4 separate regions of the Homo sapiens genome follow, and regions 1, 2 and 3 are each linked to region 4. The links come from fine-mapping of genetic effects on gene expression. A gene starts in region 4. Each other region holds a variant in brackets. All regions are shown on one strand. Distances are from middle to middle. Region 1 overlaps MCF2L (MCF.2 cell line derived transforming sequence like). Region 2 overlaps MCF2L (MCF.2 cell line derived transforming sequence like). Region 3 overlaps MCF2L (MCF.2 cell line derived transforming sequence like). Region 4 holds the start of MCF2L (MCF.2 cell line derived transforming sequence like).

The links. PIP is the estimated chance that this variant, and not a neighbour inherited with it, causes the effect. A credible set is the group of variants that fine-mapping cannot tell apart.
Region 1: its variant is the best candidate, but not a certain one, in a credible set for the expression of MCF2L in liver (GTEx, PIP 0.89).
Region 2: its variant is the best candidate, but not a certain one, in a credible set for the expression of MCF2L in lung (TOPMed, PIP 0.85).
Region 3: its variant is the best candidate, but not a certain one, in a credible set for the expression of MCF2L in ovary (GTEx, PIP 0.69).

The regions. Positions count from the first base shown.
Region 1 is chr13:113,020,294-113,027,661 of GRCh38, forward strand. It overlaps MCF2L (MCF.2 cell line derived transforming sequence like), which reads left to right. Exons shown (of 30, transcript NM_001112732.3): 3 at 4,351-4,465. Among named protein-coding and RNA genes, the nearest start is that of MCF2L, 55 kb to the left of the region's middle. RefSeq lists enhancers at 1,720-2,354, 2,355-2,990, 7,012-7,368. The variant C/T (reference allele first, on the strand shown) is at 3,739.
Region 2 is chr13:113,085,204-113,092,571 of GRCh38, forward strand. MCF2L (MCF.2 cell line derived transforming sequence like) reads left to right here. Exons shown (of 30, transcript NM_001112732.3): 21 at 921-1,046; 22 at 2,032-2,253; 23 at 2,504-2,596; 24 at 3,124-3,202; 25 at 3,359-3,425; 26 at 4,407-4,525. Among named protein-coding and RNA genes, the nearest start is that of F7, 17 kb to the right of the region's middle. RefSeq lists enhancers at 4,678-5,183, 7,266-7,368. The variant C/A (reference allele first, on the strand shown) is at 2,334.
Region 3 is chr13:113,076,618-113,083,985 of GRCh38, forward strand. It overlaps MCF2L (MCF.2 cell line derived transforming sequence like), which reads left to right. Exons shown (of 30, transcript NM_001112732.3): 13 at 435-594; 14 at 1,746-1,819; 15 at 2,049-2,122; 16 at 4,596-4,662; 17 at 5,810-5,925. Among named protein-coding and RNA genes, the nearest start is that of F7, 25 kb to the right of the region's middle. The variant G/A (reference allele first, on the strand shown) is at 4,802.
Region 4 is chr13:112,965,556-112,972,923 of GRCh38, forward strand. MCF2L (MCF.2 cell line derived transforming sequence like) reads left to right here and starts at 3,659. Exons shown (of 30, transcript NM_001112732.3): 1 at 3,659-3,903. The coding sequence starts at 3,825. MCF2L-AS1 (MCF2L antisense RNA 1) reads right to left here and starts at 3,083. Exons shown (of 1, transcript NR_034002.1): 1 at 1,929-3,083. RefSeq lists an enhancer at 2,814-3,333 and a silencer at 3,535-3,594.

The sequences.
Region 1 (7,368 bases), 55 kb after region 4:
GTCCCTAAGATGCATCACGTCCGTGGAGAAAACAAAGCAGGACACACGTGTGAGTCGTCACACCCTTGGTCACCCGGCTTGGCCGTCACACATGCCTCCTGCCCAGGACGCGTGTGCGTGTGTGTATCTACCTGTGTGTCTCAACTCAGGCTGCTTGCTGTGACAAAGTCCCCTAGACTGAGTGGTTTAAGCCACAGTTTATTTCTCTTGGTTCTGGGGCAGGAAGTCCCGGATGAAGGCACCGGCAGATGTGCTGCCTGGTGAGGGCTCACTTCCTGATTTACAGACTGCAGCCTTCTCGCTGTCCTCATGTGGCCAGGCGAGCAGAGCAAGCCCACAGAATCCCATTCACGGGAGCCCCACTCCCACGGCCTCCTCCCCTCCCACAAGCCCCACCTCCCAGCACTGTCCCCGTGGGGGTCAGCATTTCAACACATGAATTCAGGGGAAGACAGACATCCAGTCCATAACAGTGTATATGTGTAGCTGTGTGTATGTGTAGATGTGTGTATGTATAGTGTGTGCGCGTGTGAATGTGTAGCTATGTATGTTTGCATGTATGTGTAGTGTGTATATGTGTGTATGTGTAGATGTGTGTATGTGTAGATGTGTGTATGTGTGTGTATGTGTAGTGTGTATGCATGTGCATGTGTAGCTGTGTATGTGTATATGTGTGTACTTGTAGATGTGTATGTGTGTGTATGTGTAGCTGTGTATCTGTATGGTAGCTGTGTATGTGCGTGTAGCTGTGTGTGTATATCCATGTGTGTATATATAGGTGTGTATGTTTGTACATATATGTACATATACATACCTACACATCCACATGCATATGTGTGCAGCTGTGTATACATGTGTGTGTAGGTGTGTGTCTAGCTGTATGTGCAGCTATGTATCTGTGTATAGCTGTGTACATATGTGTGTGTTTATAAGTAGCTGTGTGTGTAACTGTATGTGTGTATATGTACATGTATGTGTGTATAGGTAGCTGTGTGTAGCTGTGTGTGTATTAAACTGAGTGTGTATCTCACACTAAAGCAGATCCCGTAGGAACCACACTTCTTTCTGGTGATGGGGATGAGAGGGAGTTGCATCTGCCTTCTGCCCCTAGCGAGTGGATGTAGGCCCAGTTGCTTGGGTGCGAGAGTTCACATGCAGGTGTGACAGGTCTCAGCCAGGACAGTGGTTTTTGGACGTGGGTGGGGACCGGAGGCTGCCCCTGGTGCTGTGTGGACAGGGTGCTGTTCTGAACCACAGAGGAGCTTCGGAGCCCTCTGTCCTCTGCGGCGTTCAGTCCGCCTCCAGTTACTAGGCCGGGTGTAGACACAGAAGTAGAGCCTGTTCTTGGTGCCATTGGCCCCGGGTCCTGGCACTGCCCACCTTGGTGGGGAGGGTTTCTCCAGAGAGGGGCTGTGCCCCCAGCTCCGCGTCCAGCGGTGTTTTGCTGCCTCATAACCTGCAGGTACTGGGAGCTTTGGCGCCTGCTTTTCAGTCTCAGTGGACAGACTGGGATTTCCACTCCTGACTTGGGAAGAAAGAACAGGGTCTTTGCTTTGCATTGAGGCTGTGGTGGAGCACAGAGAGTTCAGAGATACCCAGGGTAGCAGCAGCCTGAGACCAGCACCAGCTACCAACTGAACGAGGCTGTGCGGCCCAGGCCAGGCCCCCGTGCGATTTCAGCTCCGGGTCACCTGGCCCCCATCCTCTCCCCTGGGCAGCTGGAGGCTCCAGGCCTTCCTGTGGCTAGCTCCTGCCCCAAGGCTGCCCTGCTGACTGCACCCTCGACCCTGTGGCTCAGGCTGGCCTCTGGGGGTCCCCGGTCTCTGTGGTTCCAGTGAGGCAGCAGCTCCCAGATGCCACCTCCACACTGTGGGTGGGCCAGCCAGTGCTGAGAGGGAGCCACTCTCCACCTCTGTGTCCACCATCCACTCCAAGCTCCCAGGCTGCCTCCACGTTGTGTCCACCGTCCACTCCAAGCTCCCAGGCTGCCTCCACGTTTGGGCATGAGGGGATCTTGTTGCATCCGCTCCTCTTCCTAGCTGGGCCCTCCACAGCCAGTGTACCCCAAGGAGCAGCTTCTCCCTCCCACCCACCCCCGCCGGCCAGGGGTCCTCATGCCGTGGCCCATGCCCATTTGCACAGGGACGCAGGGGGTCTCACACACAGGCAGGGTCCGCCCCCAGCTGCCGTCGGCGTCACTCCACACACATAGGCTTCTGGGCGGTGCTGGAAGCTTCTGGCCCCTGAACGTTCCCCCCAGGCCCCGTTTCAGGGAAAGGAAAGGCAGGCGCAGGCTGCGGCCGTTTCCACAATCCACCTCGTAGCTGGGGCGTGCCGCTTGCCTCGGCTTGTCCCGGCAGAACACTCTTACCTTTAATGGCGACTGAAAAGTTGCCACGAGTTCCTGATCATTGTGGTAGGTGCTGCGTGAAGCTGAGACGTGCGTGAGCCACATCCCAGGGGGCTTTGAGCCCCCACCGCGGCGGCGGCTGAGGGGAGGCTTGTCGTACTCGCACAGGAGGACACAGGGCTGCAGTGTTCACTCCAGGGCCTCTTATCATTGGGATCTGAGGAATTTTCCGAGAGGAAGTGCGAATTAACAATGATGAAAGGTTTGTGAGTGAGTGACAGGCACGTTCTATTGAGCACTGCATGGGGCATTATGTGCCACCAGAGACGGGGGCAGAGGTCAAGAGCCCTCGAGGGCTGGGAGAGTTCGGAGGATAGAAGTCATCAGAGCACAATGAAGCCAGACCCTGCAGCCGCCTTCCCCTTCGGGGGCTTCCTTAGAATGCAGCATTGCGGGGACTGAGCTGTCCCAGGTGAAGGGGGGCCGTCACGGTGTGTGGACGCCCCTCGGCTCAGCCCTCTAAGAGACTCGGCAGCCAGGATGGGCTCAAGGCATGAGCCCTCAAAGGAGGTTAGGAAGGAGCGAGGGAGAAAAGATATGCTTGTGTGACGTCCTGGCCGAAGTGAGAACAATTGTATCAGATAATGAGTCATGTCCCATTGAGGGGTGCCGACAAGGACTCGGGAGGAGGCCACGGAGCCCTGTACTGAGGAGACGCCCACAGGGAGCCTCGGGGGCCCAGCGTCCCGGGATCACTGGATGGTAAAGCCGCCCTGCCTGGCGTGGCTGGGCTTGGCCAAGACCCAGAAGCAGAAGTTCCGGAAGCTGGAGACAGTGGCTGTGGGGGGCGCAAGGCGGCGGGGGACTGTCGCTGTTACGAGACAAAGCTGCAGTTGTCGGAGGCTGTGTGCACCCTGGGTCTTCTCAGTGAGGACGTGGATGAGGGGCGGCGAACCCACCATTATCTGTTCTCCATAAAAAGCTACCCTAAACTTAGTTAGCTTGAAAAGCCCTATTTTACAGATTTATTCTTCATTTAGTGGCTCAGAAGTTCCAAAAGGGCTCAGCCAGGTGGTTCTTCACTCCACGCACGGGGCACTGACTGTGTCCTCTGCTCAGCTGTGTCCTCATGGGGGCTGGGCTGGAAGGTCCTGGGGGCTGCAGTCCCGCACCTCCACCTCCCTGCCCTTTCACAAAGTCCACCCTCAACCCTGGGTACTGGCCTCCTCAGAGCAGGTGGATGCAGGGTCGTGGGACCACCTGCCCAATGACTACAGGGCATGAGAGGGCAGCTGCAGTGTTCTGAGTCCCAAGCTCACTTCCGCTGAGTCCTGTGGGCAAAACAGATCGCAAGGCCAGACCCAGGCTCGGGGGAGGGAAATGGACTC[C/T]GTCCGGCCAAGGCAGTGTGGCAGGGTCAGTGGCCGGCTCCAGCAGGCAGACCTGGAGCCCAGCCTGTGTGACTCCAAAGTCAGTGTTCGAATGGAGCTCTTTGGAATTGAATTGCTTAAAAGGCGCCAATGTCGGAGAAGCTAGACGATACCCACAAACAGTACAGTTAGGCAGGTTATTAGTGCACATGCATATATGGAATATTATGCAATATTTAAAATAATGGTTACATTGTTTAAAAGCATGGAAGCGGTTTGTTCTCAGTGTCAGGAAGGAGGCAGGAGACAAGCTTCTCTATGCAGTATCACCTCAACAAGGTTAAAAAAGCCCATAGAAAAAGGCTTGGAAAGAAGCATGTTGAATTGTCACGGTAGCTGTCCCATGGTGGCCAAAATAACGAGTGATTGTCTAAATTCACATCACTTTTGTGTACTTTCCAAATATTTTCTTCAAGCAGCACACATTTCTTTCAAATAAAAATTATGCAACGATGAAGAACATGCCTCAGTTTTAACTGAAATACTGGGTGCTGATGAAAACGGGCCGACATCTGTGGAACCCCCGGGGGCATGGAGCCCTCGGCTAAGGGTCTGCCTCTGGTCTCTCCCCAGGTGGGCGGGGGCAGGACGGAAGCCCGGTTATCACCTTCCCTGACTACCCGGCCTTCAGCGAGATTCCGGACAAGGAGTTCCAGAATGTCATGACCTACCTCACCAGCATCCCCAGGTACGTGCACCCAGAGCCCGGCAGACATTGTGGTTTGGGGCAGAGTCCCTGTGAGATTTCACCAGGGTGGGGTCCCTGCAACTATGGGATGAGGCAGAGTCCCTGTGAGATTTCCCTGTCATGGGGTCCCCGTGACTGTGGGTCGGGGCAGAGTCCCTGTGAGATTTCCCCATCATGCGGTCCCCGTGACTGTGGGTCAGGGCAGAGTCTCTGTGAGGTTTCATCATGGTGGGGTCCCCGTGACTGTGGGTTGGGGCAGAATCTCTGTGAGGTTTCATCATGGTGGGGTCCCCGTGACTGTGGGTCGGGGCAGAGTCCCTGTGAGATTTCACCAGGGTGGGGTCCCTGCAACTATGGGATGAGGCAGAGTCCCTGTGAGATTTCCCCATCATGCGGTCCCCGTGACTGTGGGTCAGGGCAGAGTCCCTGTGAGGTTTCCCCATTGTGGGGTCCCCGTGACTGTGGGTCGGGGCAGAGTCCCTGTGAGATTTCCCCGTCATGGGGTCCCCGTGACTGTGGGTCAGGGCAGAGTCTCCGTGAGGTTTCATCATGGTGGGGTCCCCGTGACTGTGGGTCGGGGCAGAGTCTCTGTGAGGTTTCGTCATGGTGGGGTCCCCGTGACTGTGGGTCGGGGCAGAGTCTCTGTGAGGTTTCATCATGGTGGGGTCCCCGTGACTGTGGGTCGGGGCAGAGTCTCTGTGAGGTTTCATCATGGTGGGGTCCCCGTGACTGTGGGTCGGGGCAGAGTCTCTGTGAGGTTTCATCATCGTGGGGTCCCCGTGACTGTGGGTTGGGGCAGAGTCTCTGGGAGGTTTCATCATGGTGGGGTCCCCGTGACTGTGGGTCGGGGCAGAGTCCCTGTGAGGTTTCCCCATTGTGGGGTCCCTGCAACTATGGGATGAGGCAGAGTCCCTGTGAGATTTCCCTGTCATGGGGTCCCCGTGACTGTGGGTCGGGGCAGAGTCCCTGTGAGATTTCACCAGGGTGGGGTCCCTGCAACTATGGGATGAGGCAGAGTCCCTGTGAGATTTCCCTGTCATGGGGTCCCCGTGACTGTGGGTCGGGGCAGAGTCTCTGTGAGGTTTCATCATGGTGGGGTCCCCGTGACTGTGGGTCGGGGCAGAGTCCCTGTGAGGTTTCCCCATTGTGGGGTCCCCGTGACTGTGGGTCGGGGCAGAGTCCCTGTGAGATTTCCCCGTCATGGGGTCCCCGTGACTGTGGGTCGGGGCAGAGTCTCCGTGAGGTTTCATCATGGTGGGGTCCCCGTGACTGTGGGTCGGGGCAGAGTCCCTGTGAGATTTCCCCATCATGCGGTCCCCGTGACTGTGGGTCGGGGCAGAGTCTCTGTGAGGTTTCATCATGGTGGGGTCCCCGTGACTGTGGGTCGGGGCAGAGTCTCTGTGAGGTTCCACCATGGTGGGGTCCCCGTGACTGTGGGTCGGGGCAGAGTCTCTGTGAGGTTCCACCAGGCTGGGGTCCCCGTGACTGTGGGTCGGGGCAGAGTCTCTGTGAGGTTCCACCATGGTGGGGTCCCCGTGACTGCAGGATGAATTAGGGTCTCTGGGAGCCATCATTGAGTTCCCCGTGGCTTTGCTGAGGGGTTAGAGCTTTGTCAGCATCATGGTTCCGAGGAGCTCAGGAGTCTGCCTCAGATCTGATCTGGGGTCCGAATCCAGCTTTTTCGCTCCTGAGCTGCCGTTTTTTCCTGGAGCTCGGAGGCCCACCTGGAGGCCCAGTTGCTCAGCAGTCGGGATCTGACTTAGCCTGAGCGCTGCTGTGCTCCCTCGTATACCATCACTGCGCATGCCTGTTCGATCAGCAGAGTTCTGCGGTGCGAGGGCTTCTGTGTTCTTAATGCCGAGGAGCCCATCTGCACGGGACCTGATGCTCATGGGAGCAGAGCCCGTCCACGTGGCCTCTCTGTGTCGTGGTCAGGCCCTGGGGGCGTGGCCGCCTCCTGCCCTTTCCAGGAAAGAACTGACCCCAGAGGTACCAGAAAATCCAGTTAACAAAAATGGTTCCCTCAGGCTGCAGTTTTTTGTTTTGTTCCAGACAGAGCTGGGTCCCTGTCCTCTGAAAAGGTAGGGAGCCCAGTTCTGTGTCTCCCCAGCGGCGGGCAGGAGAGCAGCATCAGGCCGGTGAGCTGCAGGCTGACTTGGGAGGGGTGCCGCGGGGGTCTCTCATCTGATGTGCTCGTCCCAGCCTCCAGGAAGATGCTGAGAATGTCAGCCTCACACCAGACAGTGTAGTTGCTGCTTCCATTTGGGGTATAGTGAACACACACCAAGTAAAAACAGAAATATCCTTAAATATGGCATCTGTATCCCGCACATTACATAAGGTGGCAAAACACAGAGGAGATGTTTAACCATCAGCGTGAAAGTGCAGCCGTGGCCATTACCGTGAAGGTTCTTCATTCTTCAGTCTTTAAAGACAACAGCGCACTGGGCCTGGTAACTGAGAGCTCAGCCCGTCGGCCTGACCTGGAAAGCAGCACATTGATCCCCTGATAAATATCACATAACCACCAGCTGGCAGCAGCCAGCCTCTGCAGTCATGCCTCAAGGAGAGGGAGAGCGGTGGGCACCTCTGTCCACTTGGCGGGTTGAGGTGGGAGCTGGAGGAGCAGGGAGCCTCACCGGTGGGCCTTTCGGGGGCAGGACGTCTTGGTGGGCAGAAAGAAGGGGGCTCGTGACTGACTATGGTCAAAGCCCTGGACATGGCGGTGTCCTGGTAGCCCCAAATCACTGTGTGTTGGGTTTGTGGTTTTGACCTCAGTCTCTTGTCTGTTGTGAGAATCTTGCACCCCCTATGCGCCAGGCTCTGCTGGCTGAGCTGAGTGCACGGAGGAGGGGCTGGGTCTCGGGCCGAGCGGCCGAGCTCCCTGAGGGGCTGATGGGACC
Region 2 (7,368 bases), 120 kb after region 4:
GGCCTCCCCAGCACCTGCTGGCCAGGTGTCTGTGCCGCCCTGGGGCCCCGTCCCCATCGCGCCCTGCCCCTCCCAGGCCAAGGGCACCTCTTCCGAGCCTGTGCTGAGGCTGGGATGCCTTTCGAGGTCCTACTGTGCGCCACTGTTAGGGGTCTGAGGACGCAGGTGAGCAGACGAGTCCCCGTCCCCATGGGTTGGCACACAGCCCAGCCCACATGGGATTCTGTGTGATGTGCTGACCCGTCCCTCCAGGGTGGAGCCGTGCCCGGATTATCTGGCACACAGCAGGGACGTGGGGCGGCCTAGACTGGGGATTCCAGCTATGAGTTTGCCATGTGGGTCCCTCTAACCTTCAGGCAGGAAACTGCAACTCCATGCCTTTGGCCAGGGTTAGGGTGGCGAGAGGAAACTCCCCAGGGAGCAGGTGCGAGGGGTTTGCACCTGGCATCAGGGTGGCAGGAGGGAGCTCCCCGGGGAGCAGGTGCGAGGGGTTTGCACCTGGCATCAGGGTGGCAGGAGGGAGCTCCCCGGGGAGCAGGTGCGAGGGGTTTGCACCTGGCATCAGGGTGGCAGGAGGGAGCTCCCCGGGGAGCAGGTGCGAGGGGTTTGCACCTGGCATCCGGGTGGCAGGAGGGAGCTCCCCGGGGAGCAGGTGCGAGGGGTTTGCACCTGGCATCCGGGTGGCAGGAGGGAGCTCCCCGGGGAGCAGGTGCCAAGGGTCTGCACCTGGCAGGGGTGCTGCCCCATCTGCAGCACCACTCAGTCTGTCCCAGCTGCAGGAGGGCAGGCAGGGCAGCTCCCCACAGACCAGGGGAGGGTGAGCAGCATCCCTACCTCGTGCCAAGCTCCTGAGGGGTCTGTTCCAGGGGAGCCAGGGCTCTCCGTGTCCCGACGCGGTTGCCTCACCCCATGCCCCTCAGGAAATGCTGAAATACAGCAGGAACTGCGAGGGGGCTGAGGACCTGCAGGAGGCGCTGAGCTCCATCCTGGGCATCCTGAAGGCCGTGAACGACTCCATGCACCTCATCGCTATCACCGGCTATGACGTAAGGCGCCCAGATGCCCGGTCTTCCCCGCCGCCTCCGTGGAATACACCAGCCCAGCAACTTGGCGGCCTCCCTGCACACGCCCCTCGCTTTGGTGTGAATGTGCAGGTTCTGGGCAGGAGGTCTGGGGTGGTCCCTAGATAAGCCCACTCCCAGGCCCCACAGCCGGGTCCACAGACCCCACAGCCGGGTCCACAGACCCCACTGGGCTCTCTGGGACGTGGAGAAAATCAGGAAGCGTCCCTTGCTTGGAGGGCACGCATCTCCAGCAGGAACGCAGCTCAGACCTCCTCACTCCTTGTCTTCTCCTGGGGAGGAGGCGTGGCTCGGAGCAGACGTGACTTCTGTTTTCTGGGCTGCGATTTGCAGGCTGGTGACTTAGAGCAAGTGGCCCCAGAAGGCAGATGTCACTTTCCCCGTAGAGCCCCACATCAGGTCACAGCTTATTCATCTTTTGTCCGTCTTTATGTCCACCCAGCACTCATTCTCAGGTGTTTTTTTTTTAACTAATAGAGTTGATTTATTGCAGCAATTTTTGGTTTGTGAGATAATTGAGTATAAATCAGAGGCCCTGAGGCTTCCCCTAGTGTTGACATTTAGCATGGGTGCCACACCTGCCACACATGGTGAACTAGCGCTGATGCTGATTAGTGACTGAGGGCCGTTCCCCTTGGAGCTCACTCTGGGTGCTGTGCATTCTGCGGTTTGGACAGGCGTGTAACATCCTACACCCAGCGCTAGAGCATCACACAGAGCAGCTTCACTGTCCTAGAAGCCCATGTGCCCCGCCAGTCCATCCCTCCTCCCCCAGCCCCTGGCACCTGCTGACCTGTCAGTCTCCACGAGCTTGCCTTTCCTGGGACGCCCTGCAGCTGGAATCCCACCGTGGGTGGGCTTTGCAGAGTGGCTGCTTTCACTCAGCGATGCGCGTCCATGGCCCCAGGCCCATCCCGTCCTGAACACAGCCCTGCTGTCGCACATTTAGGGGAATCTCGGCGACCTGGGCAAGCTGCTGATGCAGGGCTCGTTCAGCGTCTGGACCGACCACAAGAGGGGCCACACCAAGGTGAAGGAGCTGGCCAGGTTCAAGCCCATGCAGCGGCACCTGTTCCTGCACGAGAAGGCAGTGCTCTTCTGCAAGAAGAGGGAGGAGAATGGGGAGGGGTATGAGAAAGCTCCCTCCTACAGCTACAAGCAGTCCTTAAACGTAAGTGAGGCCGGGTCTGCAGCAGCACGCTCCTGGCCACAGACCCCGACGGGGGAAGTCTGTAACTCGGTCTGAGGTGG[C/A]CACGCTGACACCCAGCTCTCAGCCTTAGGTGTAGGGGTGGGGTATTCTGCCATTCTTAGCCCTCACCCCCAAAGTATTTCCATCATTTCGTGCCTGCACCAACACCTTTTAAAAACAAGGCAGTGGGTTCACTGTGCACGCGAACCCCATCTCCACTCTCTGCTCGCAGATGGCTGCCGTTGGCATTACGGAGAACGTGAAGGGAGATGCTAAGAAGTTCGAGATCTGGTACAACGCGCGCGAGGAGGTCTACATCGTCCAGGTGGGCCACCCACCCTACCCCTGGCCTCTTACACATTGCCACGAATGGTTTCTCATGGGAACCAGTGCAAGGATCTGCCATGAAGTTGCATCGAGCCCAGGAGCAGCCGCTGTACACTTCAGGATGCTGCCCTGGGCTGTCTTCACCCTGAGCTGGACCCAGAATGAAATGTGGGGAAAAGTACACATCAGACGGGGTGCTGCGAGGAAACGGGCTCTCCCTCCCCAGGGGAGCTCATGTGTCCCTGGACGGTGCAAGTGTGCATCTGGCACGCAGGGCCGATTCTCACGGTGGGGAGGGTGCCGTGCCCTGGGTGCCAGGCACAGTTCTTCAGTCAGTCCCGTGCATGGGGCACAGAGGGTCCCGCAATGCGGGGCCACCCACAGTGCTTTCCTCCTCTCCCCTCACACGCAGCCACCTGACCTTTGACTCCTAAGATTATCTTTGGATGTTCCGAGAGTGAAACCAAAGCGTGTTTCCTCGGGGGCCTGAGTACTCACCTCCTGGCGTTTCTTTTGGGGAAACAGGCGCCAACTCCTGAGATTAAAGCCGCGTGGGTGAATGAAATTCGGAAAGTGCTGACCAGCCAGCTGCAGGCTTGTAGAGGTGAGGCTGTCTTCAAGCGATCGTTTCCCGTAGCTTCCGCTCCAGGTGCATTTTTACCTATGTTCAGAGCAACCGCACAGTCCCCCCATGCGCAAGGTGCCTCGGCGTTGAAGTAAAGACGCTCGTTCACGTGGTTTGTCTGCTCCCTCCTCGCAGAAGCCAGCCAGCACCGGGCGCTGGAGCAGTCACAGAGCCTGCCCCTGCCGGCCCCGACCAGCACCAGGTGAGAATGGACACGCTGCCGCAGGCCTGCGTTTCTGGAGCAGTCCCGAGCAGGCCATTTGCACGCCAGGGTCCTCGGCCTCTGTCAGTGGGACCCTGTGGTTATTGGGGTTTTCCTTGAGGCCCCTGGTGTTTATGTGCTGACGGGTCCGTCCCAGAGGGTGTACTTCACAGATGTGTGCCTCCGACAATGCCCAGTCCCTCTCCAGCTCTTCCCGGGGTGGGCTGTTCCACAGCACGGCAGTGCGCACATGGCCTGTCCAGATCACAGCCACGCCCCAGCACTCCTCAGACAGTCGGGGCTCAGCTGGGAGCCGGCACTGATGGCCCAGCACACACGTGGGCACGTTTCAGACTCCGACCCTGACCGTGGCTTCGTCGTGTCTCTTCTGCCCTTGTTTTTTCTTTATTTTGTTCATCCACTTATTTTTTTCACTTTATCCTGTTTCTTATATAAGCTACCTTTAATCATTCATGGAACAGGATATGGCCTAAATAAATAATCCGTAGAACAGTAGTTTTAAAAAAGAAACACTCCCCCGCCCCCCCCCCCGCCCCCCGAAAAAAAAAGCCTCATACTTCAGAGCAAGTAGGGTGGGCGTCTGTTCTCATCCAGCCCGTCCGGGTTTAACTTAGAAGTGTGTGGCCCCTCAGAAGCAGGAGGGTGGGCATCTGCTCTCATCCAGCCCGTCTGGGTTTAACTTAGAAGTGTGTGGCCCCTCAGAAGCAGGAGGGTGGGCGTCTGCTCTCATCCAGCCCGTCCGGGTTTAACTTAGAAGTGTGTGGCCCCTCAGAAGCAGGAGGGTGGGCGTCTGCTCTCATCCAGTCCGTCCGGGTTTAACTTAGAAACACGTGCAGGAGATGCTGCTTTAGGATCAGGCCGGGAGCTCAGAGATATCTGAATGCCTCAGGTCCTCAGGGCGTTCTGAAAGACTAACCAGGCAACACACTATTTCCTTTTTGATTTGTCTGATGTCATCAGTCCCTCAAGAGGAAACTCAAGGAACATCAAGAAGCTGGAAGAAAGGAAAACAGACCCCCTAAGCCTGGAGGGATACGTCAGCTCAGCGCCACTGACAAAGCCCCCCGAAAAGGGCAAAGGTGGGTATGTGCAGGGACCGGGCCTCACACGGAGGCCTCACACGGAGCTGCTCACGGAGTGCTCACTGCATCCGAGAAACCTGCGCTTCCTGCAGTGTGAAGAAGCTTTGCAGAGCATTCAGGGCCCCTTGCTCCCCTCTTAACAGAGCCCTAGGACCCCACAGAAGAGCCCCTCCCTCTCCATTGCTCTGCACCCCTGCATCAGCAAGGCCAGCCCCAGAAGGAGCCTCGGCCGAGCGTGCAACCCGGAGCCGCCTTGGGCCCTCCCTGCGACAGCCGGACCCGCCTCCGCATCGGGTTGCGATGCCCTCTGCATAGTTTCTTTCTCTTCCTTCATAGATGACACGGTCACTAGCTCTGCCTCAGAAAGCTCTGCGCTTTCCAGAAAGCGCTTTACCCTGCAGGGTTTTGCTAACCTCAAAGGTCAGAAAGGTAAAAGTAGTGCCTGCCCCAAACCCACCCTCACCGTGGTGGCGTCTGTCATGCATCGTGTGTGACCATTCGTGCCTCCTTCGTCACAAGGGCGGCCACGCAAAAGCGTTTCTTTCCACCCAATCACGTGTTCCCTGATGCTGTGTCTCGCGCACAGACACCAGAGTTATTTAGAGGTGGCTTTCCTTCGGGAAAATGAAGGCGAGCTTTTCAAATGGAGGCTTGCTCAGAAACGGAGCTGTCCTTGGCTTTCCAGGCCCCCTCCTTCCTCTCCCTGCCCCCCACCCCCGCCTTCTCCCGCCTTCTCAGGTGAGTTCCCTGCAGGGTGCTGACCTTGCTGGCTGCGTGTCTCTGCTCCGCCTGGTGGCAGAGGCCGCTCAGCCATCTTCTGGGGCATCCACTAGTGAACAGGGCTGATGGGACCCTTGAGACGGAGACGTCTAATGCCCTGCTCACCTGCGAGAGCTCCATGATGGGAAATACATGGCGGGGAAATGGGCCCAGGAGGCCCTGGAAGCCGGCCCTGGCGTGCAGGCGGCTCTTCTGGGAAGCCCTGAAGGCCAGCGTGGACAAGGGCTCTTTCCAGAGAAGTAGGAGTGTTTTCCAATTTATAAAATGCTTTTAAGTTGGCCTGAGACTTGAAACAAACAAACAAACAACAGATTCTGGTGCTGCAAACTCTGCTAGCGCAGAACTAAGAAAACGTCCCTAGAGACGGGCCCCGAAAGGACGCCTCTGAGTGCCGCAGCCCCCACTCCCATGCCCTCCCGGCCCCTCCTTCACTGCGCGGCCCCTCGGCTCCCTGTGTTTTGCTCACAGAAGCTCCTTTTTCATCGGTGGAAAGGGGCCACAACGTCGGTGTCCCCTTCCAGCACGAGCGCGGGTCAGCCTCCTCGCCGCCTCCCTCCGTCCTTCACACTCTCTCTCCGGTTGTATTTCTGCCTCCTCCTCCTCTTGCAGCTTCTCCTACCAGTCCTGACAAAAAAGCCAAGCGGCATGAAGTAAAGAGCGACCCGACTCCCTTTGGTGTGCGAGGTAGAGTGGCACCCTCGGGCACGGCACCCACTCTGCGTTGGCAGGAAGCGCGGCCCAGCTGGCTGTCAGGTGGCCGTCAAGGCCACCTAAGGGGGATGCTCTCGTGGGTCTTTATGCTGCGGAGGCAGACACGCGGTTGTGTTCAATGTGTGATGCTCTGGTGACAGGTCCTCGAGGACAGCACGCCTCTCAGCCAACTCCTCACAGCAGGTCTATCTGGAGCCTGCGGAACTGCCCACCCCGTCGGTGGCTGCTGGCCACGGCTGCTGCGCTGGTCACCTGGCCGTGCTGGGTGGAGCTGGGTGGGGTCTCACTGCCCAGTGGCTGCTGTCGGCTATAGGGCACCCTGTTCCCTGCCCTTCCCTGTGGCACAGTTTGCCCCGACACTTCCTGCTGGGAACACAGAGCATAGCAACTGGCAGGGCCGACCCGGACCCTCCTTTCCCGGGGCCAATGAGGCCGAGCTCCCTGTCCGACCCGGACCCTCCTTTCCCGGGCCGACGAGGCTGAGCTCCCTGTGGAACCTGGCCCTTCTCGTTTCCTGCCTCCCTTATATTCTCAGGGTGAAAACTGCCCTGTGAAGCCCAGAGACCTCCCCTGGCCTGTTGAGGACCTTCAAGTGCAGGGACGGGGCTCATGTTTGCAATCTTGAGTTTTCAAAAATTTGCAAAGGTTCCCAGGGGTGTAAGCAGAACCAGCCTTCCCATTCCGCCCGCCTCCACAGCCTCCTCACATGACACAGCGAGCCTCACAGAACCAGGCAGAAGCTGTGGCCACCCTGGGCATGAGTTCAGAGGCAGGGAGCTGGCCCGGCGTTACTGACTGTCCTGCCTGCAAGTGGGTGGGCGCCCGGCTTGCTGCTTCGAGGCCCCAGGAGTGCTTGGGAGAAGGGAGTCATTTCCCTGTTGACAGTCTCCTGGGAGAGGCTATTCTTGTCTGTCAAACCCTCTCCGCTTGTGAACTGGAGTCGGCAGAGCCGGTCCCTGGTGGAGAAGGTGGGCCGGGTGGGCCCTGTGGGCCAAATGCCGCTTCTGCTGCACTTTGGCCAAGCTCAGCCTCTGCTTCCGTCTCGTCATCCATGAATGAAGACAGTACAGCCTTGCAGGGTCTCGAGAAAGCCAGTGTGGTGTTGAAGCCGGGCCACTGCCCGTGGGTCATTTCCACCGTGGTCAGTGTGGTGTCAGAGCCGGGCCACTGCCCGTGGGTCATTTCCACCGTGGCCAGTGTGGTGTCGAAGCCGGGCCACTGCCTGTGGGTCATTTCCACCGTGGCCAGTGTGGCGTCGAAGCCGGGCCACTGCCCGTGGGTCATTTCTGCTGTGGTTGGTGGTAGTGAGCCCAGGTGGTTCTGGGTGGCCTGAGCGCTGCCCAGCACCC
Region 3 (7,368 bases), 110 kb after region 4:
GAGGTCAAGCTGAATTTTCCTTTCAACACAGAAATTATTTCCACGCCAACCCTGCGAGGTGGCCATCCCGCCTCCGCTGGCAGACTTTGTGGCATGGGTGTGTTCTTCAGGAAGGGCCTGGCCCTGGGACCTGGTGATGCCCTTGAGACCAGGCTCCTCCTGAGCCCTCCACATGCCTGGGGAAGGCTGCAGGCCCCTCCCTCGCATGGAGCTGCCCTTTCCCGAGGCCGGGGCCCCGTCCCGTGTGGGGGCTGCATCCCCCTCTCCGTCCGTAGTGGCCAGGGCTGGACACAGCTGCGCTGCGCTGACAGACCCCGCATGGAGAACATTTAAAGCGGGGGTTGGGCGTGCCCCGGCACGTTCTGCGCCTGACTGTGTATTTTTAGTGATGACACCAACATGTGCAAGGCACCTTACTGAGCATGCGGTTTCAGGAGCACGTGCGAAAGGTCTTCCAGAAGCAGGCAAGCATGGAGGAGGTGTTCCACCGCAGGCAGGCCAGCCTGAAGAAGCTGGCGGCCAGGCAGACGCGGCCCGTGCAGCCGGTGGCCCCCAGACCCGAGGCACTGGCAAAGTCGCCCTGCCCCTCCCCAGGTCTGTGTGGCCGCCCGGTGCCCCGGGTGCTGTGGGACCCTCGGGGGAGCCCCGGGCGTTGAGAGCTTGGTACATCTGAGGCAGCCACCTGCGAAAACTGTCTCCACACGCCTCCTCCCCTTCCACCTCCGGGCCCCAGTTCAGGGCCTGAGGGCCGGTTCCCGCCACCCCTCACCCATGTTTATAAATGGAGTTTTGTCAGGACCCGGCCACGCCCATCCTGTGCCACGCACATCTTGTAGGCATCGTTGTGGCTGCTTTTCCATGAGGCTGGCAGGGTTCAGTGGTCTCAGTGAAGCCCACGTGGCCCAAAACTGGAAACACAGAGCTCCCACAGAGGAACCATCTCCGGCCTTCCCAGCTCCAGCCTCTCCACGGTCTGTCCTTTCCCGGTGCTATTGCCAAACAACATTCCTCACACACGGCCCAGACCCTGGGCTCCAGGAGCCCTGAAGAGCCACGTCCGCGCACCTCAGTCCGGCGCGCATTGCTGGTCCCAAACCCGCCCTCTATGCCGAGCCAGGCACGGCGCCATTTCCCAGAGACTTTCCCGCCACCTCTGTGTCTCAAAACGAACCCTCTTCCCATCCTTGCTGGTTTCTCACACACGAACCCACCAGGCGAGCTGCTGCCCCAGCTTTGGCGAAAGTCAGCTGTCAATCTCAGGGGCCCCGGGGGCCAGGCTCTTGCCTTCCTGTGCTGGGTCCCAGGCGACCTTATTTTCTGCCTGTTGGGAGCTCTCCCAGGTCGGAGCCCACAGGCGCTGTGTCCCCGTGGGCTGTGGGAACGTGGGGTGACTCAGGGCAGTGAGGCCCCACCGTCCTCCCCCTTCCCGCACCACCACCTGTGGCCTCAAAGGCCAAGTCCTGCCCACGCCACCACCTGTGGCCTCAGAGGCCAAGTCCTGCCCACGCCACCACCTGTGGCCTCAGAGGCCAAGTCCTGCCCACGCCACCACCTGTGGCCCCAGAGGCCAAGTCCTGCCCATGCCACCCCCTGTGGCCTCAGAGGCCAAGTCCTGCCCACGCCACCACCTGTGGCCTCAGAGGCCGAGTCCTACCCTCTCCTCGGGGCCTTTTCCCGCTGGGTGCACTTCCCCTCTCCAGAGGGTCAGAGGGGACTTCATGCCCCGCTCCCCTTCTTCCCAACAGGCATTCGGCGAGGCTCTGAGAACTCCAGCTCCGAGGGCGGTGCGCTCCGGAGAGGGCCCTACCGGAGGGCCAAGGTGAGGCTTGCCCAAGACAACCCCGCCATCCACACCCCCCTCCTTGGTTCACGCTGGGCCTGGTTCTCCGTGTGGCCCCCCCTCCCGGGCACTGCCCAGCTACCTGGCCAGCTCCCCATCGTGGGAATTCAGCCCTGTCCCCATACGGGAACTGGTGGGCTCTGGCCTTGAGAGTTGGCCCTTGAGGTTCCGTCCCGCCTTTCAGACCTGACGCTGTTTTTCTCCCCAGAGTGAGATGAGTGAGAGCCGGCAGGGCCGCGGCTCAGCGGGGGAGGAGGAGGAAAGCCTGGCCATCCTGCGCAGGTGGGTGCGCTGCCCTTCTGTCCTCACAGGGGCCCTCCGACCGCAGCCTGAACCACCAGATGCCGTCAGGCACTCGAGCAGATGCCTCACAGATAGAAGGCTGGTGCAGAAGTCATTGTGGTTCTTACTTTTGCACCAACCGATACCCAGAGGGCCTGCCGTGGCTCGAGCGTGTGTCCTGGTCCCCACCGCGTGAAGCACACACACGCCGCACACACACCACTCGGGATTCAGGAGGGAAGAGAGGGCGATGGCTGAATGCAACAGTGAAGGGGCATCTTCGCCCCAGCAAGAGCCTCCACCCGCCACTGCCATTCACAGGAGACACCACTCAAAGGCCCCAACCAGCACCAGCTGCAGCAGCAGTCACCAGCTGCTCAGGGCTCAGTGTGGCAGGCAGTGGTGCCAGGCAGCTGGTGTGTGGGAGGGCATCGTCTCCAGCCCTCCTTTTCCCCTGGGATTCCTGGACCCTCAAACTCAGGGAGTGTTGTGCAAACAAAAGCAGTTCTCTTTCCTCCTTCACCTTTAAGAAAGAAAGACCTCACTGGTGCAGGGCCAGGGAATGCAGGTCCCCAGAGCAAAACTGGGAAGGAGCCAAACACCCATGAGGCACACGCGGCTCCCTCCCAGAGGCCCTCGAGGAAGAGGAGGAGGCCACACACCGACCAGGCACCCGCCACTGGCTTCACACTTTGCACTGTCTCCGTTTTTAGTATTTGCACTGAATATGTTTGCAAGAGACGCTTGGAACCACGTCTCCCCCTTTCACCATCAAAACTCCAAAATCAGGAAAGAAGAAAAGGCTCTTCCTGATGTGTTGACAAGCAGGTGTCCGCAGGCAGCGCCAGTGTGACCCTGCAGGGTTGGGAGACGGCGCAAAATTGGGAATTACAGGAAACTGAGCTTGGTGTGAAAGCTGAGTCTGTCACTTCCGGCTTCTGATGGAAGCTGGTGAAACAGGATGGGAAGGAAGAGGGGCTTGCCAAGAAGCGTCCAGGCAGAGGATTGTCCACACGGAGGAGGGTCCAAGCAGAGGGGCGTCTGCACGGAGGAGGGTCCAGGCAGAGGAATGTCTGAATGGAGGAGGGTCCAGGCAGAGGAGAGTCCATACGGAAGAGGGTCCAGGCAGAGGGGCATCCGCACAGAGGAGGGTCCAGGCAGGGGAGTGTTCGTATGGAGGAGAGTCCAGGCAGAGGAGTGTCCATACCGAGGAGAGTCCAGGCAGAGGAACGTCTGAATGGAGGAGGGTCCAGGCAGAGGAGAGTCCATACGGAAGAGGGTCCAGGCAGGGGGGCATCCGCACAGAGGAGGGTCCAGGCAGGAGAGTGTTCGTATGGAGGAGAGTCCAGGCAGAGGAGTGTCCATACCGAGGAGAGTCCAGGCAGAGGAACGTCTGAATGGAGGAGGGTCCAGGCAGAGGAGAGTCCATACGGAAGAGGGTCCAGGCAGGGGGGCATCCGCACAGAGGAGGGTCCAGGCAGGAGAGTGTTCGTATGGAGGAGGGTCCAGGCAGAGGAGTGTCTGTACGGAGGAGGGTCCAGGCAGAGGAGTGTCCATACGGAGGAGGGTCTAGGCAGAGGGGCGTCCGCAGGGAGGAGCAGCAAGTGCTCGGCCCTGAGACGCAGAAGGAGTGGCCCTCGGCTGGCAGTTCCTGGGTTGTGAGAGGGAGTCCAGAGCCCTCTTGCTCCCCAGTCCTCTCCCCTGTGCCGAGTCCGGGGCCTCTGCGGGCCGACAGCTGTCTTAGAACAAGCTTGCTGAACAACCTCAACCCAGGACCAGCCCCCTGGCTCCAGTTTCTGTGCATCACATAAGCAGGCAGGGCCGTAGGCTGCTGAAAGGTGCTCACACCCACAGCAAGACCTGCGCAGCCAGCTTGTGCACCCTCCCCTTCTGGATCCAGTGTGGTGGGTGCAGGGTCACTCCCCGGACCACCACTGCCCACCTGCTGTGTGTGAGGGCGTGGGCAGGGGGCAGCTCCGGCGATGCCAGACCCCCGCCCTGGCCACGAGGGGCCACACAGATACCCACCACGAGGAAGGCTCAGGGAGGCCGGGCAGCAGGCGGGCGTCTTCTTGGCAGAAGAGACTCGGGTGGATTCTAGGGATGGGTCCTAGGAGTAGGATGACTTGCCCATGAGCGTGAGGAACTCAGCTCATTTTGCACAGGTGGGACCCAAAAGCCCAGGAGGCGAGTCTGGGAATCCCTCCTACCAGGCGGTGTGTGCCGGGCCAGGGGCAAGACACTGCCGGCCAGTCTGGGAACCAGGGAGGCTTCAGCCGCCGTCTGCAGGGTCTGAGGCCGCGAGCTGGGAGGGGAACCCCGAGGAGCGTCCAGCCTGTGGGCTTTGGGTCGCCGCCAGTCCCCTCCTGCTGGGCAGGCCATCATTCTAGGTGGCACCTGTGAGACTGTGGAGCAGACCATTCCTGCTCTCCCAGTGCTAACCTTTTTTGCTCTCCACATGACCTGCCACCAGGCACGTGATGAGCGAGCTCCTGGACACAGAACGGGCCTACGTGGAGGAGCTGCTGTGCGTCCTGGAGGTGAGGCTGGACTCGGGGAGGGCCGACTGCCACGGGGACTCCCCTGGGCCAGCTGGTGGGGCTTCCTCTGACAACTGCTGCTCGGAGCAGCCTGCTGTCCACCAAATGCATGTGAGAGAGCGCCCACAGCAGCCTGGTC[G/A]GGCCCCAGACGGGGAGCCCCTGGGGGCCTATCAACAAGACACAGACCAGGCAGCTCAGGGGGGTCCGTACAGGGGACAAGTGTAGTGATAAGAAAGAGGAGCTGACACACAACAGATGCACAAACCACACACACATCGTCACCAACACAGGCCACAGGGTGCCTGCGATTCCCGGCACGGGGCACTCCAGGGCAAGCAAAACTCGTCGGAGGTGGGAGGCAGATTAGAGGTGACCTTGGCAGTGGGCTGTTGCCTGGGTGAGCTTGATGTGAGTGGTGGTCACCTGAGTATAGACAGGCATCTCATTCACCCAGTGTGCACAGGTAGTGATCACCTGAGTGTAGACAGCGAGTGTGCACAGGTGGTGGTCACTTGAGTGTAGACGGGTGTCCGAATCACCGAGTGTTCAGAGGTGGTGGTCACCCAAGTGTAGACGGGTGTCTGATTCACCGAGTGTGCACAGGTGGTGGTCAACTGAGTGTTGACAGGTGTCTGATTCACTGAGTGTGCACATGTGGTCACCTGAGTGTAGACAGCGAGTGTGCACATGTGATCACCTGAGTGTAGACAGCGAGTGTGCACAGGTGGTGACCACCTGAGTGTAGACAGCGAGTGTGCACAGGTGGTGGTCACCCAAATGTAGACGGGTGTCTGAGTCACCGAGTGTGCACAGGTGGTGGTCACCTGAGTGTAGTCGAGTGTCTGATTTACTGAGTGTGAGCAGGTCACCCGAGTGTAGACATAAGATTTGTGCCCTCTGTTTCAGTTACACCTGAATCATAAAAGGTTAAAAGGGAGAAGGGTAGAACCTCCACCCCATTCCCCCAAATTGGTGCTGTTCATAATGCTTTTGCTTTGATGGATGCCTGTCCCGGTAACTTAGAAATCACCCGAGAATAAAGATGAAGGGCTGGCCTGGCCCACAGATGAGCCGGCATCCCTGGCCCACCTGCCCCCCCACAGCATCAGGCCCAGGACCCCCGCCGACCTCTGCGCTCTCCCTGCAGGGCTACGCCGCGGAGATGGATAACCCACTGATGGCTCACCTCCTGTCAACAGGCCTTCACAACAAGAAGGATGTTTTGTTTGGAAACATGGAGGAAATCTATCACTTCCACAACAGGTGGGCCCTTCCCCCCGACACAGGCACGCACCCGTGATCTCTTGCAGCTAATGGTGCTGGCTTCAGGGGGCTGGAATGGGGGTGGAGGCCAGGCCATGCCTGGCTAGGGAGGGGCGCCCAAGGGGTGGACTCACAGAGGCACAGGCTTGAGTGTGGGTACATGGGGCCATCTCTGAGCGCCCACGTGGCACCGTACCTGGTGGCCTGTGTCTAGGCAGCCAAGTTGTAAGTGAGCCGCCAGCCGTGAGGAGAGGGCTCTGAGCCCGAGTGCGCCCTGTTTTGTGGTGCAGGAAATGGGACCCGCCTGCCCCTCATCCCCTCCTCATCCTGCTGGGCAGGTGGAAGCCGGAACCCCCTCCCAGGTGTGTATTCGGCCCTTTAGGGGGTCACCGAAGGCCATACCACATAGCAAGGCCTGTTTTGTTCCCAAGCTCTTGAAAAGGACGGCAAACTAGGCGTTCCTTACCCATCATGGGGGCTGCTTGTCCCCCGAGCGACCCGTGGCCTCTCCAGTGCAGGTGGCCTGTCCGGCCTCTTGTCCTCCACTCCTCTGAGCTGTTTGGCTGCTTTAACACAGTTTTGGGGAGCTCATGGGAAGGTGTAGGGTGCACACGCAGTGCAGAATGCCAGGGAGGCTGCAGTGGACAGCCCCCGCTGCGTGTCCTGGAAGGAACCCATGTGAGTGGCTCCCATGCGGCCATGTGCTTGGGGACCAGCGTGCCCCACTGGCCATGGGAATCGCCAGTGCTTGGGATGTTGTTCTGACACCTGTTTCTTGCCCTCTCATCACCTCACCTGCCACTTACAAGGAGGCAGCAGGTCTGCAGTTGACCACCAAGGAGCCTTCCACGTCCACGGAGCTTGGGCAGAACCTTAGTGTCCCTTAGTATCTGTCCTCATGGCCCCCAGGGTCTCAGCCAGTCCTGCACGCAGGGGTCCCCACAGCTTTCAGCTGTTGTGCTCATGCCCCAAATCCATCCCCCAGACGGTTTTCCCCTCCAGCCGGACTTCCTCCAGGGGACAGATGCAACAGAAAACAGCCCAGGAGCCTGGGGGCGGCGCTGCCTAGGGCCAGGGCTCAGGGTGTGTCTGCAGAGAACCCACAGACCCACGGCCAGTTATGGGGGTGGCGCCTCCAGGGCCCTGAAAGGTCCCATCTCTGTCTTTGCCTGCGGCCCTGTGAGCCGTGTGTGTGCTGAGGGAAAAGCAGCTCCCTCCAACTTCTGTGTGCAGCCAAGGCCAGAAATATAAAGAGACTCAGCCTGGGGCTGCACCTGCTGGCGCCTGAGAGCTTGGTGCTCAGGACAGGCGTGGCTGCGGCGTCTCCAAGTCATGCGGGGCAGATTGCCCAGAGCAAGGCGTAACAGGCTTCTGAAAAATGACGTCCATCCACTTGTCACTGGTCCACGTGACTCGGCCTGTCTTTCATACTACTTAAAAACC
Region 4 (7,368 bases):
TCTCTACCCTCTCTGATACCCCTCCCAAGACATGGAGTGAGGCTGTGCAGGAAACACCTATGCCTGCCCTTCTGTGGCCGGGGCCACTGTGCCACTCCATAGCCCTGCTCCCCTAGCCTCGGGGTTGGCTCTGGGAGCCTGGCCCTGCCTGCTCCAGCTCCCATTTCTCACCTCCGCTTTGTGGCTGATCATCCAGAAAGGTCGCCATGAGGATGTTTGGTATCCAGGTGTCGCTTTACCTTCAGCCTCCCTCCTGGGGCGCCTCTGGTTCCCGGGAGAGAGGCCGAGCCAGGGATGGAAAGAAGCCCATCCCTTGGGACACACGGCTTGGGACCTTACCTAAGTGTCCTGGGTCTACCTGTCGGGAACTCTGTGGATGCCATTCCCCTCACGACACTACAGGCGTCCCCGATGCAGACACCACAGGTCTGCATCTTTGTGCCTCTGTGTGGCCTGGGGCAAGTCGCTGAACCTCTCTGCATATTCTGTAAAACGCGAAAAACAGTGCCTTCTCCCAGCTCTCTGTAAAGACCAATAGTTTACAGCATGGGGAGCACTCTGGCAGGTACCTGGAGCGCCTAGTGCTCCCTAATGCCAGGTGTAATGGTGACAATCGTTCTTTAGGCAAGTATTAAATGATGTTTATGGAAAGATGGCATCATCTGTGCTATAATTTAAGGCAGAATAAAGACTAGACAGAGCTAGAGAGAGACTTAGCTGAACAAATCAGCTCCTGAAATTGTGGGTGTTGGAAGGTCCAGGGGCAGCTGGGGACTGGGGAGAGTTGGGTTGCAGTCCAGGCTGTCTGGGAGCAGAGCTCCCTCTTCCTCAGGGAACCTCTGTCTTTTTCTCTCAAGCCCCTTGATAGATTGGGTGAGGCCCACCCACGTTATGTCACACACCTTACTCAAAGTCTACTGATATAAGTGTCAATCTCATCTAAACATACCTTCACAGAGACATCTAACCTAGCATTTGACCCAATATCTGGGCACGGTGGCCCAGCCAAGTTGACAAGTAATAAAGCCAATGACCACAGAGACCAAGGGTCTCCACCCTGGTGCCCCAACATGACATGGTGCCAGCCAGAGGATATTGGCCAGGGGACAGAGTGGATGGCACAGGGTTGAGGAAAGAAGCCAATAGCATGTGTGGAGATGCCCAAGGGGTGAAGAGGGAGATCGGAGAAGCGGGACAGGCCAGAGGGTGTGGCCCTTTCCTTTCATCTTGCTTTTAAGATGCAACAGATTTCAGCAGTGTTTCTCAAAGTGTGGACCAGCACATTCAACATCCCAGGAAATTTTGCTAGAAATGCACATCCTCGGGCCCCATCCCAGACCTCCTGGATCAGCAAGGAGCCATCAGAGCCCAGCTGTGTGAGCTTAACAAGTCCTCGGTAGATCCTGACGCAGCCCAAGGCTGGGCAGGCTGGAGGGCACCTGCATGCCAGGAGAGCGGCCGGGAGAAGAGGGCAGGTGCTCAGAGGGAGTGTGGCCTAGGGCCGTGTGGGCTGAGGACCAGGGAGGGTGTTGTGCCTTAGACTAGTGGAAAGGGCAGGGCCTGCATTTCAGGACCCTTCTGCCTGATGACAGGCTTTCCCTGAAGCTGGAGGGGCAGGGTTGGGGTGGGGGGGCGGTGGGGGATGGGGAGTGGTGAAGGTTCCCTGAACTGACAGGGAATGAGAGGAGCAGACCCATTTGAGGGCACTTTTTGCAGACCATGTGTAGACAGGAGGTAGCAATTGTGCCGCCGTAGGCACCCTGGGCAGCCCAGGGAACGCTTGTCCACAGAGGGAGAGGCTCCCATCCACTCTGAGGCCTTTCCAGAGTTCTCCTTTCACTGGTCTCCAAAGAGATTCTGTAGAACCAAGTGAAACTGCTGATACTCAATACGTTTCTCATGTTAAACAAAAACAAAAACAAAGCAGCCATTTCTTACAGATTTATTCAATACTTTCTATCTGGTTATTATGCCTCTTATTCTGTAATTATTTTTTATTATGAATTATTTATTTCCAGATCTGTCTGGCCTATAAGGCCTGTAGGCACTATAAGGGGGAGTACTGCGTCACCTTCATCTTTTTATCCCTTTGGCCTTGCTCCGTGCCTGAAAGCTCACCACACTGGAACGTCCAGGTGCACATGTGCCACTGGACACCGGGATGTTGCCGGATGCTCTTTTGGACGCTGGAATGCTGGTGCATTGTTGCCGGATGCTGGAATGGTGCACGCACGCTCTGTTGGACGCTGGAATGCTGGTGCATTGTTGCCGGATGCTGGAATGGTGCACGCATGCCCTGTTGGACTCTGGAATGCTGGTGCATTGTTGCCAAATGCCGGAATGGTACACGGATGCTCTGTTGGACGCTGGAATGCTGGTGCATTGTTGCCGGATGCTGGAATGGTGCACGCATGCTCTGTTGGACGCTGGAATGCTGGCGCATGTGCACATGTTATTGGCATGAGCTGTAGTTCAAACCTCAGCCATATGATGCTTGAATTCCCAAACCATTCGTGGAAATGTGTACTTCTTCCTGCTGGAATTCTCTCTCTCTCTCTCTCTCTTTTAACTGATTGGGGAGTGAGGTGGGGGGGGGGGTCTTGCTACATTGCCCAGGCTCAAACTTCTGGGCTCAAATGATCCTCCTGCTTCTGCCTCAGCTTCTGCCTCGGCCTCCGGAGTAGCTGGGACTACAGGCCTGAAATACTGTTTCTTTAAGGAAGGGCATGTTACCTATAATACCAAACCACAAAAGGATAGCTGCGGTTTTGGGCGAGGAGAGCTCAGAGAGTTTCTTGCATATGGCCCTGTGATGGCGGCCATGGCCCTGCATAGACACGAGCTGGAATCTGCAGGTGGCAGCCAGGACGCTGCGTGTGTCGAGTGCACAGTGTGGCTTGGTGCCAACCATGGCGAGGGTGGAGAGCCCCGTGCCTGCAGCGCGCGCTTCCCTCACTGGGTCCTGCGTCCTTGGGCAGGCGATGCCCCTGCGGGGAGGGGCTGGTCCATCCCCGGCCAGCCACGGACCCACGCATGGACCCAGCGACCCACGGACCTGCTTACCTGGGCGCGGCGCGGGTGGCATGCGGCCACACGGAAGGGGCGCGCTGGGCTGCTGCGGCCTCTGCAGCTTCTACACCTGCCACGGGGCGGCCGGAGGTAAAGGGAGGCGGCGGCCAGGCGCGGCCCCGCGGAGGCAGCTGCACTCGCTCGGTCCACTCGCGGCTTCGCGGCTGCCCGCAAACCAGGAGGGCGTGGAGACCCGGAACCGGGGGGAAGGGCGGGGGCACTTGTGCGGCACCCGCGGGGCTCCCAGGGGACCTCGGCGGTGACACGAATTTCTAGGTGACCTTGGCGGTGACACGAATTTCTAGGTGACCTGTGTGATACACTAGGTGACCTAGTGACACAGGTGACACTTCCAGGTGACCGCGGCGGTGACCCGCGGGGCTCCCAGGTGACCTCGTTGGTGAGCCCCGGGGCTCCCCGACGACCGCGGCGGTGACACGCGGGGCTCCCAGGTGACCCCGGCGGTGCACTCACAGGACTCCCAGGTGACCCGCGGTGGTGACACACCGGGGCGGGCGCGCGCCGCTTCCGCTTCCGCCGAGCCGCCCCCCGCCCCCCGCGGCGCAGCGCGCGCCCCCCTCCCGGTGGCGCGGAACCAATCCTGGGCAGGGAGGCGGCGGCTGGAGGCTGAAAGCGCTGCCGTGGCCCCCTCCCCGCCTCCGCCGCGCCCCCTCCGCACTCGCACGGCCCCACCCGCAGGCGCCCCCCGTGCGGAGGAAGCGGATCTGCCAGGATCATTTTTGTTGTGTCGGAGGATGAGGTTTTGGCTGAGGACTGAAGAGATGGCCTTGGAAGAAATGGTGCAGAGATTAAATGCGGTTTCCAAGCACACGGGTAGGAGGAGCTGCTGGCCGTCAGTGATCTGTGCTTAAGCTTGACATCATGGGCTGAAATGTGGGGAAATGCGTCTGATTTTTGTAAGCCGCCCTCGTGTTCCTTTCTAGCCGTGGTAGCTGTGACATGGGGGGCACTGGTTGGCAGCTGGTGTGTTTTCAGAGGCTGTCGGCGATCGTATGCTGCCCGGGATAGTCAAAATGACTGCACGTTGGTGACACTGGCTCTCTCAGGGTTGCTGGGTCTGCATGCGGAGCCATTTGTGTGTCTGAAGTCTGCCCATCAACCTGCCTGTCCGCAGCCCTCGCAATGGAGAATGCATTGCGAATGGAGAATGATCTGAGCCAAGGGCTTTCAGAGCTTGGGGTTTCAGAGCCAGGGGTAGGGATGGTGAAGCTACCTGGAAGCTCGTTTTGAGGATGAAAAAACCTGGACTAATCAGGTGGTTCTTTTCTTCATTAAATGCAATTTAAACCTAAGACAGATGTTTGAGACGGTATGGGTAAAGAGTGGACTGGACGTTCATTTTCAGTATTAATCGAAATATTACTTCAAATAAGCTTTGAAGAGTAGTTCAGATCGATTCTTTTAGGTGTAAGCAGAGACTGGGCTGACAGCTTGCATCTGGCCGTGGCTTTCAGGCGGTCGCATCTGAGTTCTCAGGCTGTGTTATGCAGAAGGGAGAGGCATCCTTAACTCGTTTTCCTTGAAATGAAGAGGAAATAATGATATATCATTAAAAGTAAGTTGCCAAGTGTTTTGCCTGATGTTGCCATATGTTATGTCATATATGCCATTACTAGTTGTCTAACTAGTACTTGCCTGGGAGATTAAAATGTCAGTTGCTTGGTTTGGGTGTGGTTCTCTTTCTCTGCCCACCCCGATGGATTCTGAGAGTGAACCAGTGATTAAATCAGCATAAGCACCATCGTATGGGATGGTCTAATCAAGATGTTTTTAATGGGGGCTTTTATGATCAAAGCTGCTGGGTTTATTGTATGTGGGTCGAAAGAAAACAAAACCATTTTCATGCCGTCTGCTCCCTGATTCTTAGAGAATCAGCTCTTTTTCTGAAGCTTGAGTGGAGCTTTTCCGTGCAGGGTTTGCAGGGTTTGAGTATGGTGAAGGGCTGCGTGGATGCCAGGTTCACAGGGAGGCTTCCGATCGGCTGTGGGGGTGGAGGAGAAAGCCCCCCTTGCTCTGCATGCCTCTGCGTGCCGTTCGGTGTCAGAGTCACAGAGTGGGAACCGCTCCAGAGGCTGATGTCATTCCCCAGGTTTTTAGGGATTGGGGTTTCTTCATGAGCTCCAAGAGACATGTGCGCATTTTTAATTGGAAAAAGGCTATCTCAGAAGAGCAGCAGTGACACTGTCTGCTCACTGAATGTCGTGCGAGCCGGGCGCTCGGTGTGGGCCATCGTCTCATCTGGAACAGGCAGTGAGATGTGCGTCCTCCCACACATCTGCATTACCGATAATTGCATGCTTCACCAGGACTTTCAAGTCCAGCTTACCAGATATCCTCGGTTATGAGCACCCTGTAGCGTTTAGTTAGGGGAGGTGACCCTGCATCATACTCCACTTACCACCCATTAACACTGGCCTCTTCCTTCAGCACAAACCCATTTTCTGCTCACGCTGTGTGAGGTACTGCTCAGCGGAGGCAAGTTATTAGGTTGAAGGCTGTAAAACCATCATGAGGGGGTTTATGATGCAGTATTGACATGATGCTACCACAGAGTGTACGGGTATGTGGTGCACATTCTCTGGTAGGGGTGAAGGTCAAGGTAAACCTGATCCCCACCTCGGGTTTAAATTCCAAGCACTTCCTCAGGAGAGTTCCCCACCTGCAGCCAAACACTCTTCAGCGGGAGGTCATGGAGCTGCTTCTCCTTCTGGGGTCATGCTAGGATCCGTGCCAGGTAAAAGCTGATGGCAACAGGACACTGATGTGGCGGCTGGTGTAGGTCCTCAGGGCAGTGGCGGGGCTAGGTCACAGCTGAGGGATTGCGTACAGCGGCTGGCCTTAGAGCAGCTGCCTCATTCAGCTGTGCAGAGCTTCACCCTCTGTAGATTCACCCCCAACCCACAGGCATTTTATCTTTGCTGCTGTCCAGGACATGCTGCTGTGTTTTAATTTCAGATTTATGCATTTCTTCTGTCACCTAGAACCTTCATTAGCTAGGCTAATCTGCATGTAAAGGAGGATAATGTGTGCTGTCCATATGGTCTGTGAATCTGTAGCCTTTGACCTTGAGAATTGACATTTTATATACTTTTCTGAACCTGATCTTCAGTAACAAGGCCAGGGGCACTTTCCAGTGGCAACTTCCCCCTGGCCCCCCTTCTATGTGATAGGGCTCATTTTCGTCTGTTTTGGTTTTCTCTTTGGAATTTTAGTCATTGGTGAAAAGGTAGAAGACATTCGAGGGAGCAATGCTATGGATCTAGTTGATTTAAGCATTCGATGAAACAGAACAGTGGTCCTCCAACTACAGCATGTACATGCGTCACCTTGGGGGCTTGTTAAAGCACAGGCTGCTGGGCCCACCCTCAGAGTTTCTGATTCAGGAAGTCTGGGGTAGGGTCTGATAATTGACATTTCTTAAGTTCTTGATGAAGTTCTTCAGGAATCAAACTTGGGGAACTACTGTGGTAGAAGAATCTTTAAATCTAGCCCCACCTTTTCCATTAGTTGACCTAATACTAACTCTTGTCATAGACAGATGATGATAGATGGATAATGCATGGATAAATGAGTGGATGGATGGATGAATGGGTAGATGGGTGGGTGGGTGGATGGATGGGTGGGTGGATGAATGTAGGGGTGGATGAATGGATGTGTGGGTGGGTGGATGGATGGATGGATGGATGATGATGGATGGATGGATGTGTAAGTGGGTGGATGGATGGATGGATGGATGGATGGATGGATAAATGAGTTAGTAGATAGTGGATAAGTGGGTGGATGGATGGGTGGGTGGATGAATGTAAGGGTGGATGAGTGGGTGTGTGGGTGGATGGATGGATGGATGATGATGGATGGATGGATGTGTGAGTGGATGGATGGATGTGTGGGTGGATGGATGGATAAATAGATAAATGGAGGATGATGAATGGGTAGATGGATGGATGAGTGGATGCTTGGACGGATGAGTGGATGGATGGATGGATGAATGAGTTGGTAGATAGATGGATGAGTGGATATATGTATGTAAGGTAGATGGAGGGGTAGGTGGATGGGTGTATGGATGGATGGATGACTGGATGACTGGATAGATGAATGGGTGGGTGGATGGATGGAGGGAGGGAGGGATGGATGCATAGATGAGTGGATGCATGGAGTGGAGGAGTGGATGGATGGATGGAAGGTGGATGGATGGATGAATGGATGGATGGATGGATGAGCAAAAGCTGTGTGCTGCCTCCTGTCCTTAAGCTCTTCCTGGGAAGGGCCTGTGGCCTG